Regions from separate parts of the Homo sapiens genome. Here region 2 is linked to region 1. The links come from fine-mapping of genetic effects on gene expression. A gene starts in region 1. The other region holds a variant in brackets. All regions are shown on one strand. Distances are from middle to middle.

Evidence for each region. PIP is the estimated chance that this variant, and not a neighbour inherited with it, causes the effect.
Region 2: its variant is fine-mapped to the expression of P2RY6 in subcutaneous fat (GTEx, PIP above 0.99).

Annotation. Positions count from the first base shown.
Region 1 is chr11:73,269,895-73,275,271 of GRCh38, forward strand. P2RY6 (pyrimidinergic receptor P2Y6) reads left to right here and starts at 2,444. Exons shown (of 3, transcript NM_001277204.2): 1 at 2,444-2,572. RefSeq lists enhancers at 96-889, 466-515, 890-1,682.
Region 2 is chr11:73,244,570-73,249,946 of GRCh38, forward strand. It overlaps the pseudogene OR8R1P. Among named protein-coding and RNA genes, the nearest start is that of P2RY6, 25 kb to the right of the region's middle. RefSeq lists enhancers at 4,224-5,377, 4,819-4,868, 4,939-4,998. The variant T/C (reference allele first, on the strand shown) is at 2,828.

The sequences.
Region 1 (5,377 bases):
AGGACAGAGGAGGGGCCCTTCCTGTCAGCTGGCTGGGAGCAGAGGTGGCTTTGTCTTTTCGGAAGAACTGGTTCTGTGGAATTTGTGCTTATTTCCCATCAAGGATCAAGGACCTGCTCTGGGGCTACCTCAGGGCCCCACAGGATGAGGGGCTGGTTTTCAGATGAGTTTTCTGCTTGCCTGTCATCTGGATAGTGTCTAAAAATTTGCAAACTGCCTTCTTGTCAGTGTCTTGCTCATTCTTCATGACACTCCTGATATGTAAGTGCCTTCACTTCCTCTATTTGGCAGATGAGGGAGCTGAGGCCAGAGAGGGATGGGACTGCCTGGACTGCCTGAGGTCACACAGCAAGCTGAGGCAGGGTTGACCAAAACTCTCATGAGCTGGGGTTGCAAGGAAAATGCCTTCAGCTTCCTGGGGCTTGGGGTAGGAGAATTTGGCTGTCAGAGCCTGGAGGGTGGGGCAGGCTGGCACTACCAGGTGGGCCTGCCACAGAAACACCTCACACTCCTTTACCAGGAGCTGACGGGGGGCACAGCCAGCCCCTCACAGGCCAGCACTGTGCTGGGAGGCTCACCCCTGAACCTACCTTTGTGGACATGCCAAGAGAGGGCAGGAGAGGGAGCTCTGCCTTGCTGTGTGACCCAGGCAAGTCCCGACCCTCTCTGGGTCCAGCGCCCTCTCGCCTACTGGGATATTGGGATTGGGGATTGGTTGAGGGATGTGCTCCCTCTCTGGACCACAGAGGAAGCAGAGAGCTTCCCCAGGGCTGGGAGTGGGGCACAAGCTCGGGATGCTCCCTGCCAAAGCGTTGGTGGCCCTGAGTTGCTGCCTGTGCCCAGGGAGTCCCAGTCTTCGCACTAGCCTGCTGCTGAGATCCACTGAGGCAGAGCCTGGCACAGAGTGGGGGCTTGGGGCCTGGGGGAGGGTCTCCTCCAGGCTAGGTGGCTGGGAGAGGGTGATCTGGCAAATCTAGATGGGGCCTGTCCACCTGTCCGAGGCTGCAGCCCCCTAGCTCTCCGCCCCTTACCCTCCTTTATGTTTCTATATCGCTGCTCTTATCACTATCTGGCCTGCTATATATTTACTCATTAACCAAAAGAAACTAATCTCCCCTGCTAGACTACAGGTGTCTCAAGGGCAGGACTTTGTTTTTTGACCTCAAGTGCGTTGAACATTACCCGAACAGAGTAGGTGGCCAATAAGTACCTGTAAGAAAGAAGAGGAGGAGGAGGAAGCAGGAGAGTCATCTTACAGACGGGGAGGGCCCACCATGGGCCCAGGTAGAGCCGCCCGGGCTGCCTTCTCCTCATCAAGCCCAAGCTCAAGGATGGATTGGCGCTGGGGAGGGGAGGATTGCCTGGGGTCAGCCTTTCCCCCCCGGCATCACCCTCCATCTTCGGTGCTGTAGCAGGACGAGCCGCGGACAAAACCCTTCAGACACTGAGATAGTGAAGGGAGTGGCTTTAATCAGCTGGGAGCATCGGCAGGCTAGCATCTTAAAATCTGAGCTCGTCAGGTGCTCAACTTCTGTCCCTTTTAAGGGCTCACAGCTCTAAGGGGGTCCACGTGAGAGGGTCGTGATCAACTGAACAAGCCAGGGGGTACATGATAGGGACTGCGAGCACCGGTGGTCAGAGTGAAACAGAACAGAACGGGAGGTTTCACAATGTCCTTCCATACAATCTCTGGAATCTATAGATAACAACAGCTGCTAGGTCAGGGGTCGAATTTTAACTACCAGGCTTAGGTCAGGCAGGCCCAGGCCTGGTTTCGGGTCTGGTTCCTTGGTTTCGGGTCTGGTTCCTTGGTTTCAGGTCTGGTTTTTAGGCGCCGGGCTACCTGCCTTTAGTTTCGCTTCTCTTTCCTTTTCCGAGTATAAAACAGTATGAGAGGGTCTCTCTCCTCCCTCAGTGCCATCCTCATCCCTGGGTGGGAGTTGTCTGGATCCATAGGGTTGGAGCCACAGATAACAGAGCCATTAATCTCGGGGTCTCAGCCTCTCTTAACGGACCTTCCAGGCACTGCTGAGAAAACCAGGTTAATGGTTTCCTGCGGCAGCAATGAGCAGAAGCAGGGCCATCTCCAGACTCCAGAGAAGCCAGGAGAGGGCTGGGGTGATAATGGGGAGGAGGATAAAAAACAGCCACCCAATGCGTGCCTTCCCTGTGCCAGGCCCTTGTCCTGAAATGTTATCTCACTCCATCCTCCCAACAGTCCCTTGGGCTAAATTGGTGATGCTGCTTGTTTGAGTGAGCAAACAGAGGGTGAATGAAGTGACTTGCGGGCAGCTGGGTAGAGGATGAGTCAGCATTGGTGTAAAGGACTGGAGCTTCAGGGTTCTCGGGATTCGAGTCCTGGCCCTGCTGCTTGCCAGCTCTGTGCTGTGGCAAGTTACTTCCTCTCCCCAGGTCTCTCGGTTTCCTCATCTGCTGCCTCTCCAGACTTCTGCCAGAACATTGCACGCGACAGTTTCAGGCACAGAACTGACTGGCAGCAGGGGCTGCTCCACGAGTGGGAATTTGCTCCAGCACTTCACGGACTGCAAGCGAGGCACTTGCTAACTCTTGGGTGAGTTTTCTGGGTCCATGCCTGGAAGGGCTTGCGCCCCTCAGCTCCCCTAGGAGCTTCCTGAGTAACTGCAGTCCACTTGCAGCCACCGAGGCTCATCACAGGCAAGAGTGGCAGTAGGGCAGGCACTGGGGTCCTCCTCCTTCCTCCGCCTGGCTATGCCTGGAGCCTGCAGACTGCACAGCATGGAGGGACGAGGCACCGCAGGACGGGGTCAGTGGGGGCGGGGAGGAGATGGACACATTGGTGCTGCGCCGTGCCTTGCTGGAGAAGTGGAATAGCTCAGTCAGGATTCGGAGCCACAAAGGTCTTGGTTGGAGTGCAAATGGCTGGCAAGGGCACTTTTCCTCTCTGGGCCTCAATTTCTTACTCTCTAAAATGGGGGCAACCGTGGTCTCTCCCTGCGTATGTGAACACTGCTAAGTGTAGTATCTGGAGAGGGGTCCTCACGGAGGAGGCTGGGCCCTGCCCTCAGAGCTCCCCAGGAACTTTGGTTGAGGGAATGAGTAGGAAGGATTAGTGATCAAATAATTGTCCACAGAGGAGGCCCTTGGGAAGCCTCTCACCTCTGCCATTCCAGCTAAATCTTAAGACAGCCTGGAGCTGGCCCCGTGAGAGTGGTTTGGAAAAAAAAAAAAAAAAAGTCCCTGAGTCCAGGTGTGACTTGTTAAGGGTGAAAGGGCCTATCTGGGAGAGCTGGGTTAAAACTTTTCCAGAGTTTCTATTGCCATTCAGCTCTGCTGACACCGACACAGAGAAAACAGGCAGCCCAGCCCATGCGTTCAGCCCCGGCCTCTTGAAGATATTTGGGACTCTCATCTCTTGCCAGCTCTAGAATGGGTCATATTCAGGGAAACTCTCCACCCCTCAGTATCAATGAGATGAAAAATGAGAAGGCCCTTTGCAAACTATAAAGTGTTGTGCCCCAGAAGGTGCATCTGTGTGTGTGCCAAGCCCCTGGGTGTGTACGTGAGAGTGAGAATGCCCAGCTTCCAGTGTATGTGTGTGTGTGTGACTGGCTGGGTGGGTGGAACTCTACACTCCCCTCGACTCCCTGTGTGGCTGGGACTCTTCTAAAATTCTTACAATCTTTTTTTGCATTTCCTCACTGTTTGTCAGTTTATCAGAAAGGGAGGGGGCCATGGTCCAGAAACCTGGAAATCGTTTCTGAGCCTGCCGACTCTTCTCTCCTGCCCTTGCCTTATCCTGTGGCTGTCTCTGGAGACCTGACTGCCGGGAGCTCCCAGCATGGCCTGTTCTGCCAGAAGCTTGCCTGGCTTCTCTGTGCAGCCCATCCACCACCTGTTTTTCCATCTGTGGCTATGCACTGGCTGTTTTCACACCACTGTCCCACTGACGCTTTTTATTTTGGGATTTTTATTTTTTTTAAGATAGAGTCTTGCTCTGTCACCCAGGTTGGAGTACAGTGGCACTGTCATTGCTTACTGTAACCTTGAACTCCTGGGCTTAAGCAATCCTCCTGCCTCAACCTAAAAGTAGCTGGGACTACAGGCATGTATCACAATGTTCAACTAATTTTTAAAAATATTTTGTAGAGATGGGGTTTTGCTATGTTGCCCAGGCTGGTCTCAAACTGCTGGCCTCAAGTGCCACTGACTCTTTATAACATCCCAATGCCCTCCAGAGATGGTATTTACTGTTCCCATTTTACAGGAGAAGAAATGGAGGCTTGTTGAAGGGAAATGGCTCTCCCAGAGTTATCCAACCAACTAGCGGCAGTGCTAGGGTTTCAATTCTTACCTAACTCCAAAAACTTTATTAACTGTTGTGGCTTACCTAGTAGGTGTGTGTTGGCTCTTTGGCTGAATGAATAAATAAATGAAATAACGTGAATAAATCATTCCGTCAAAATTGAGCTGAAAGAGAAAGTTAAGCAATAATAGCAAGGTCTGTCATTGACTGAGCAACTACAATGTGTCAAGTGTTTTACACAAAAATGAAAGCATCAGGAGGCTGAGGCAGGAGAATCATTTGAACCCAGGAGGCAGAGGTTGCAGTGAGCTGAGATCATACCACTGCACTCCAGCCTGGGTGACAAGAGCGAGACTGTCTCAAAAAAAAAAAAAAAGAAAGAAAGAAAGAAAAGAAAAAGAAAAAGAAAGCAGTCAGAATTATTGTTATTCCTATTTTGCAGCAGAGGAAGCTAAGGCTCAGAGAAATTAAAGGATCCTGTCCAATGTGGGAGCTGGGACTATAATTTGTCAGTGTCCAGGCCCCAGAGCTCTGAACCTAGCTTTCCTGGTTCCTTAGTGTTAGAGTGAGTCGGCAGAACCTGGCAACAGGTGCCCATTACAGCAGAGGACCCGGGGCCTGTCGAGACTCTCAGGAAGCTGGGTGCAACAGCCCACCCTGCCCCCTCCTGCCTTGGGACCATTTCCCCATTTGTCTCTGAAATAGGTTTCTATTTCAGGCTGGGGTGGGGATCCGGCAGCCCAGGCTCTGGCTCTCCCTCTGTGACTGTTGGCTTGTCCAGTTAGGGCCAATGCCCCGGCATGGGGTGATATATTGCTGCTTCCCCTGTCCCAGGGCTGGCCCTGTCATTAATAGCTCCATGGGAGGGCAGGGTCTGAGCAAGACGCAGTCATTTGGTCTACGGAGATGGCGTAGGCTGGGTCAGTGGCTTCTGTGCCCAGCCCTGTGTGGATTCCAGGGACCCAGGGGCTAGTGGGTCCAGCTCTCCCCTTAGGAACTCAGGGGCTGGGTACTGAGCTCCAGGAAGACGAACTCTGCAGTAGCTGAGACAGAGCCTGGCATCCTGACTCCCAGGGCAGTGCCGGTTTTCAT
Region 2 (5,377 bases), 25 kb before region 1:
GCAGAAGAATTGCTCAAACTCAGGAGGCAGAGGTTGCACTGAGCCGAGATCATGCCACTGCACTCCAGCCTGGGAGACACAGCGAGACTCTGTCTCTTTAAAAAAAAAAAAAAAAAAAAAAAAAGACAAAGACGATGCCCTTGAGCTCACATTCTAGTAGGGGGAGAGAGATAATAAGCAGTGAACATAATAGAATGTAAATTATATGGTGTGTTAAAAGGTGACAAGCTCTGTAGGAGGCAAAAAACAACAGGAAGAGGGATTGTGAGGACATGAAGGTTGCAATTTTAAATAGGGTGGTTGGGTGAAAAGGAGGCATTTGGGCAAATACTTGAAGGAGGTGTGGGAGTTAGCCAAATGGAAAAGAGCTCCCAGAAAGAGGGACCAGTAAGTGCAAAGCCCTAGGGCCTGCAGCTGGGGTGGAGTGGGCCTGGAGGGGAGGAGGGGAGGCCAGAGGTCGGGGGAGATCTGGTAGGACATTGAATGAGAAGGGAAGCCATGCAAGGTCTGAGGAGGAGACAGAATCTGACTTACATTTTAGAAGGATTGGTCTGTCTGCTGTGCTGAGAATAGACCACAGTGGGGCAAGGTCAGAAGTAATGACTACAGGGAGGAGCTGTTGCAGAAATCCAGGTGAGAGCTCAGGCTGAGGACTGGGACCAGGTGGTAGCAATGGAGGTGGGGAGAAGTGGACCAATGCCAGATGTATTCTGAAGGAAGAGTGAATGGGATCCTTTATGGATTGGATGGAAGGAGGTGATAAAAGAAGAGGGGGTGCAGAGGATGCCTACAATGTTTTGTAGACAGTGACCCTGAGATCTAGAGAAGATGTAGTGTGAGGCCACACAGCTAGTCAGTGGGTGGGGGTGGAGGAGAGGAGGATGGGACCAGGGTGGCGGGAAGGTCCTCAGGTCTAGGACAGCATCTGGGAGAGGATAGGGGGAAGGACTCTGGCATAGCTGGTCACAAACCAGCCCCAGGGCAACTGAGCATTGATTTGATCAATGGCTTTTTCCTCTTCCCTTGAATTCCCCTATGATGGCCTTTTAATTGGGTCCATTTGTTCCAAGGCCGTGGGCTGAGCTGAGCAGACGCCAAATGATATGCCTATTATTAAATAGATTAGGAAATGGCCCTACATCTTGGGCGGCCAGAAAAACCAGAGTGACTGAACAGTGTCCCTGAGGAGTAACACGTGTATTGTGGAATACTGGATGTATTGCAGAATCCCTTCCAGGCACCTTGCCTTTCCTATGCTGTCCCTGCGTCTACAGAATCCTTCTGACTTCCTTGCTCACCTGAAATGTGTCTCCTCCTCCAAGATTCACTTCAAATCCCCTCCTCGGTGAAGGAGCTGAAGGAGCGCGCTAATCGCCACCCCTCCCTCAGCCTGCCTGAGCTACTGCCACAGAGAACTCACACATCTGCCTGGCAAGAGATCCAACCTGAATTGGAGGGTCTGCCCTAGGGGACACTGTCCAAGTCAGGGTTGTCCAGGGAACAGGATTACCCAAAGAACATTTAAATAACAATCCCACTTCAGTAAAAAAAAAAAAAAAGATGTCTCCATTTCCTGAGCTGGAGTCAAAAAGGGTGGCTGGGAGGCAGCAGAGAAGAGGAGTGAGTGTAAATTCCGTGTGATGGAAATGAGTGGCAATTTAAATTCGACTGGAGAAAAAGAAAACTTTCATGTCAGTATCAAACTCAGACCATTTTTAAAAATCGGTTTCTTCCATTTTAGACATTATATACTGGTTTCCTTTTGTGAAATGAGGCTTTAGTTCTCTTCCTTCTCTCATTCTCCCATTGCAATTTTTGATTAAATATTCAGTGCTTCCATTTTTATGATGTCAAAAATGTTGCTCACAGTGACATCTTAGGGCATTCTATGTTTATATTTTCTTTCTTGCATAACTTTTTGTTTTTCCTGGAATTAATAACTGCCTCACTGTACATTCCTAAGAAGGACATATTCTAAGGACAAAGAGAACTAACTCTAAAGAAATCTGAAGCAGTCTTTGTAATCATATTACAAGTACGGTTACCCCTGAACATCATGGGCTTGAACTGCATGGGTCCACATATATGCAGATTTTCTTCTGCCTCTGCCACTCCGGAGATAGCAAGACCAATCCCCACCTTCCACCTTTTCCTCAGCCTACTCAATATGAAGATGAGAGGGATGAAGAACTTTATGATGATCCACCTCCACTTAATGAGCAGTAAATATATTTTCTCTTCCTTATGTTTTCTTAATAACATTTTCTTTTCTCTAGCTTAATTTATTATAAGAATACAGTATATGATATATGCAACATACAAAATATGTGTTAATCAACTATTTATATTTTCGGTAAGGCTTTGGTCAACAGTAGAATATTGGTAGTTAAGTTTTGGGGGAGTCAAAAGTTATATGTGGATTTTCAACTGCGTGAGGGGTTGACATCCCTAACCCCTGCACTGTTCAAGGGTCAACTTTAATACTATTGATGGTGTTAGTTTGAAACTATTACATGTAGTAGGATATAATGAAAATCTAATTATGTTAATGTCACTGGAAACCAACATTTTCAACATAAGAGAAAAGAGATACGAATATAAAATCAAAGAAGAAAAAACTACTATCAGTATAGTCTTGGATTTGGAAACATCTGTATAAACTCATGATGCTTTTTTCTCTTTAAAAAGTATTCTCTATTTCTAACTTCTAAAAAGGCCTGGGAACAATAACTAGCCCTGTGATGCTGAGCACCTCTAGTACCCGCTTCAAAGGTTCTAAATGTATTTCCTATTAAAAGGAACAAGGGCTTCTTGGAGAAATGGCTGA[T/C]TCTGGGTTCGTGGCAGGAAATGCATAAGATGGGTTCAGAATATTTTGTCATACAAAAAGCAAGTTGTCAGCACTACTAACGTTGTGTTTAAAGGACATAAAAACCAACTTGAGGACTGTGCTGCACAAAGATGGGGTATTTTAAGTATCAAAAAGAATAATGCCTACGATGGATTGAAACATACAAATCTGAAACTTGTGTTTCAATCTATGAGTTTATAATGATACTAAGAGCAAACAAACAAGCAAACGTGTAGGTCTGTTCTGTAGGTTGGTAGCTTATCAATGTATTATTCTGAAAGGCAGGTTAAAAGGAAAAGAATCTGTCTTTCCTATACAAACTGTATTTCAGAGTAACTAAATAGACACCGAGGAAAATTCTTCTTTACTGAACTCCAGCCAATAAATGAAGAAGGTATCACAGAATTAAATATCATCATTTTGCATGCCCTAATCAATTAATGCCTGTAGGCCTGGGGTGTCCAATGTGGCAGCCACTACCCACAAGTGCCTACTGAACATTTGAAATGTGGCTTATCGGAATTGATATGTGGTATAAGTGTAAAATACACACTAGATTTTTGAAGACTTAATACAGAAAAGAAAGATTGTAAAATATCTTGGTTTTTATATAATATTTTTGATATAACAGATTAAATAAAATATATTATTTAAATTAATCTCAGTATTTCTGATTACTTTTTTAATGTGCTTACTTTAACATTAAAAAATATACCTATATGCTTTGCTTTCTATTTCTACAGGCAAGTCTGAGCAGTAATCATCCCAATGGTTGCTAGTCTGATAACACCAGAACCCAATGGCCAATATTAACATCACAAAAAAGAGAGAGAACTAGACATTATGTCCTGCTTTATGGGGTACAAAGAAGTACACACCACCTCCTATGAAGAATTCATAGGTGAACCTGAATTTGATCAAACCTCTAGATCTAACTACCAGTTTTCAGAAAATACAGGTGACTGAGGAAGTTGAGATAGCAATAGGTGATGAAATTAACCAAATCCAGAATTTGAGAACCTTTATAGGATACACGACTCAGTTTCTTTAATGGCAAATTAAAAAAAAAAATAAGTGTGGAGGAGGAGTAGACATCAGAATGGAGGTCAAAGCCAAGGTTCCATCTCTTCTCCCTGCTACAGAGATATGAGGCCCCAACTCCCTAAATACTCAGAAGCCACCTCAGAGGAAACAGGGAGAAAATCTGAAACAGAAGAGAGACTGGACAACATTTTTCTCCAGCCCTCTGTGGGGCAGGCACACATGAGAATCAGCAGATCTGTTACAGGCAACAAAGGAGCTGTGTTTTCTTGGGGTATATATTCCCAAAGGCGATGCCTGCTGGAAATGACTCCTCTGGGCCTGCATTTACTCTTGCTAGGTTGACAAGTTGTCTCCATGGTGGGGAACCTGGCCTTGATTGCTCTAATTGGCTGAAATTCATACCTTCCCACCCCCAAGCTCTGTTTTCTTTCACCCAGTCCTTCCCTGATCTCTATTGTCCTGTTTGCACCCCCAGAATGCTCATGACTTTTGTATCAAAGAAAAACATCTTCTATGTCAGGTGCATGACTCAGCTGTTTTTCTTTTTATTTTAAACACTTTCTTTAAAGACAGGGTCTTCTTGTTCTGTCACCCAAGCTGGAGTGCAGTGGCACAATCATAGCTCACTGCAACCTTGAACTCCTGGCTCAAGTGATCCTCCCACCTCAGCCTCCCAGGTAAGTATGACGATAGGATACCACGTAAAACCACACCTGGCTAATTTTTTAAATTTTTGTAGACATGAGGTCTTGCTATGTTGCCCAGGCAGTCTTGATCTTCCGGACTCAAGTGATCCTCCCACCTCAGTCTCCCAAAGTGCTGGGATTACAGGCGTGAGCCATCGCACCCGGCCTCGCAGCTTTTCTTTCTCTTTATTGTCCTCTCTATAAATACCACGTGTTGATGTTCATAGCCTGTGGTTGCTTTGTGGCCATCTACAATCCATCATTGCATGAGGTCACCATGTCTCCTCAGGTGAGAGAGAGAGAGAGACTGGATTTGCTGGAACCACTCCCACACAGGGCACATACTTAGGCCGACCTTTTGTAGTATTGATGTCATCAACCATCATCTTATGACAGCCTCTTGGTCCTCTAAGTTTCTTGTACCAGCACCTGTGCCAATGAAGTAGTGGTTTTCACTGTGGTGGGTATTAATAGTACAGTATCCAGTCTTTGCTTCTCTTACTTTCATTTAACTTGCTCAAGGCAAACTAAAACCTTTCAGCACCTGCAGCTTTCACGTCAATGCCATTTCTGTTTTCTTTGAGTCAGTGGCATTCATGTATCTCAAATATTTTTCTCCAGGGTCTATGAACCAGGAGATGTTGCTTTCTGTTTTCTGTTACAATTTGAGGTCTGTGCTGAACTCCCTGTTTAAAGCCTGAGGAACAAGAAGAATGCTGGTTAAAAATCCAGGAAAGTGGTGATAATGTAGGGAGATCTGTGATGGTTAATTATATGTGTCAACCTGACCGGGCTAACG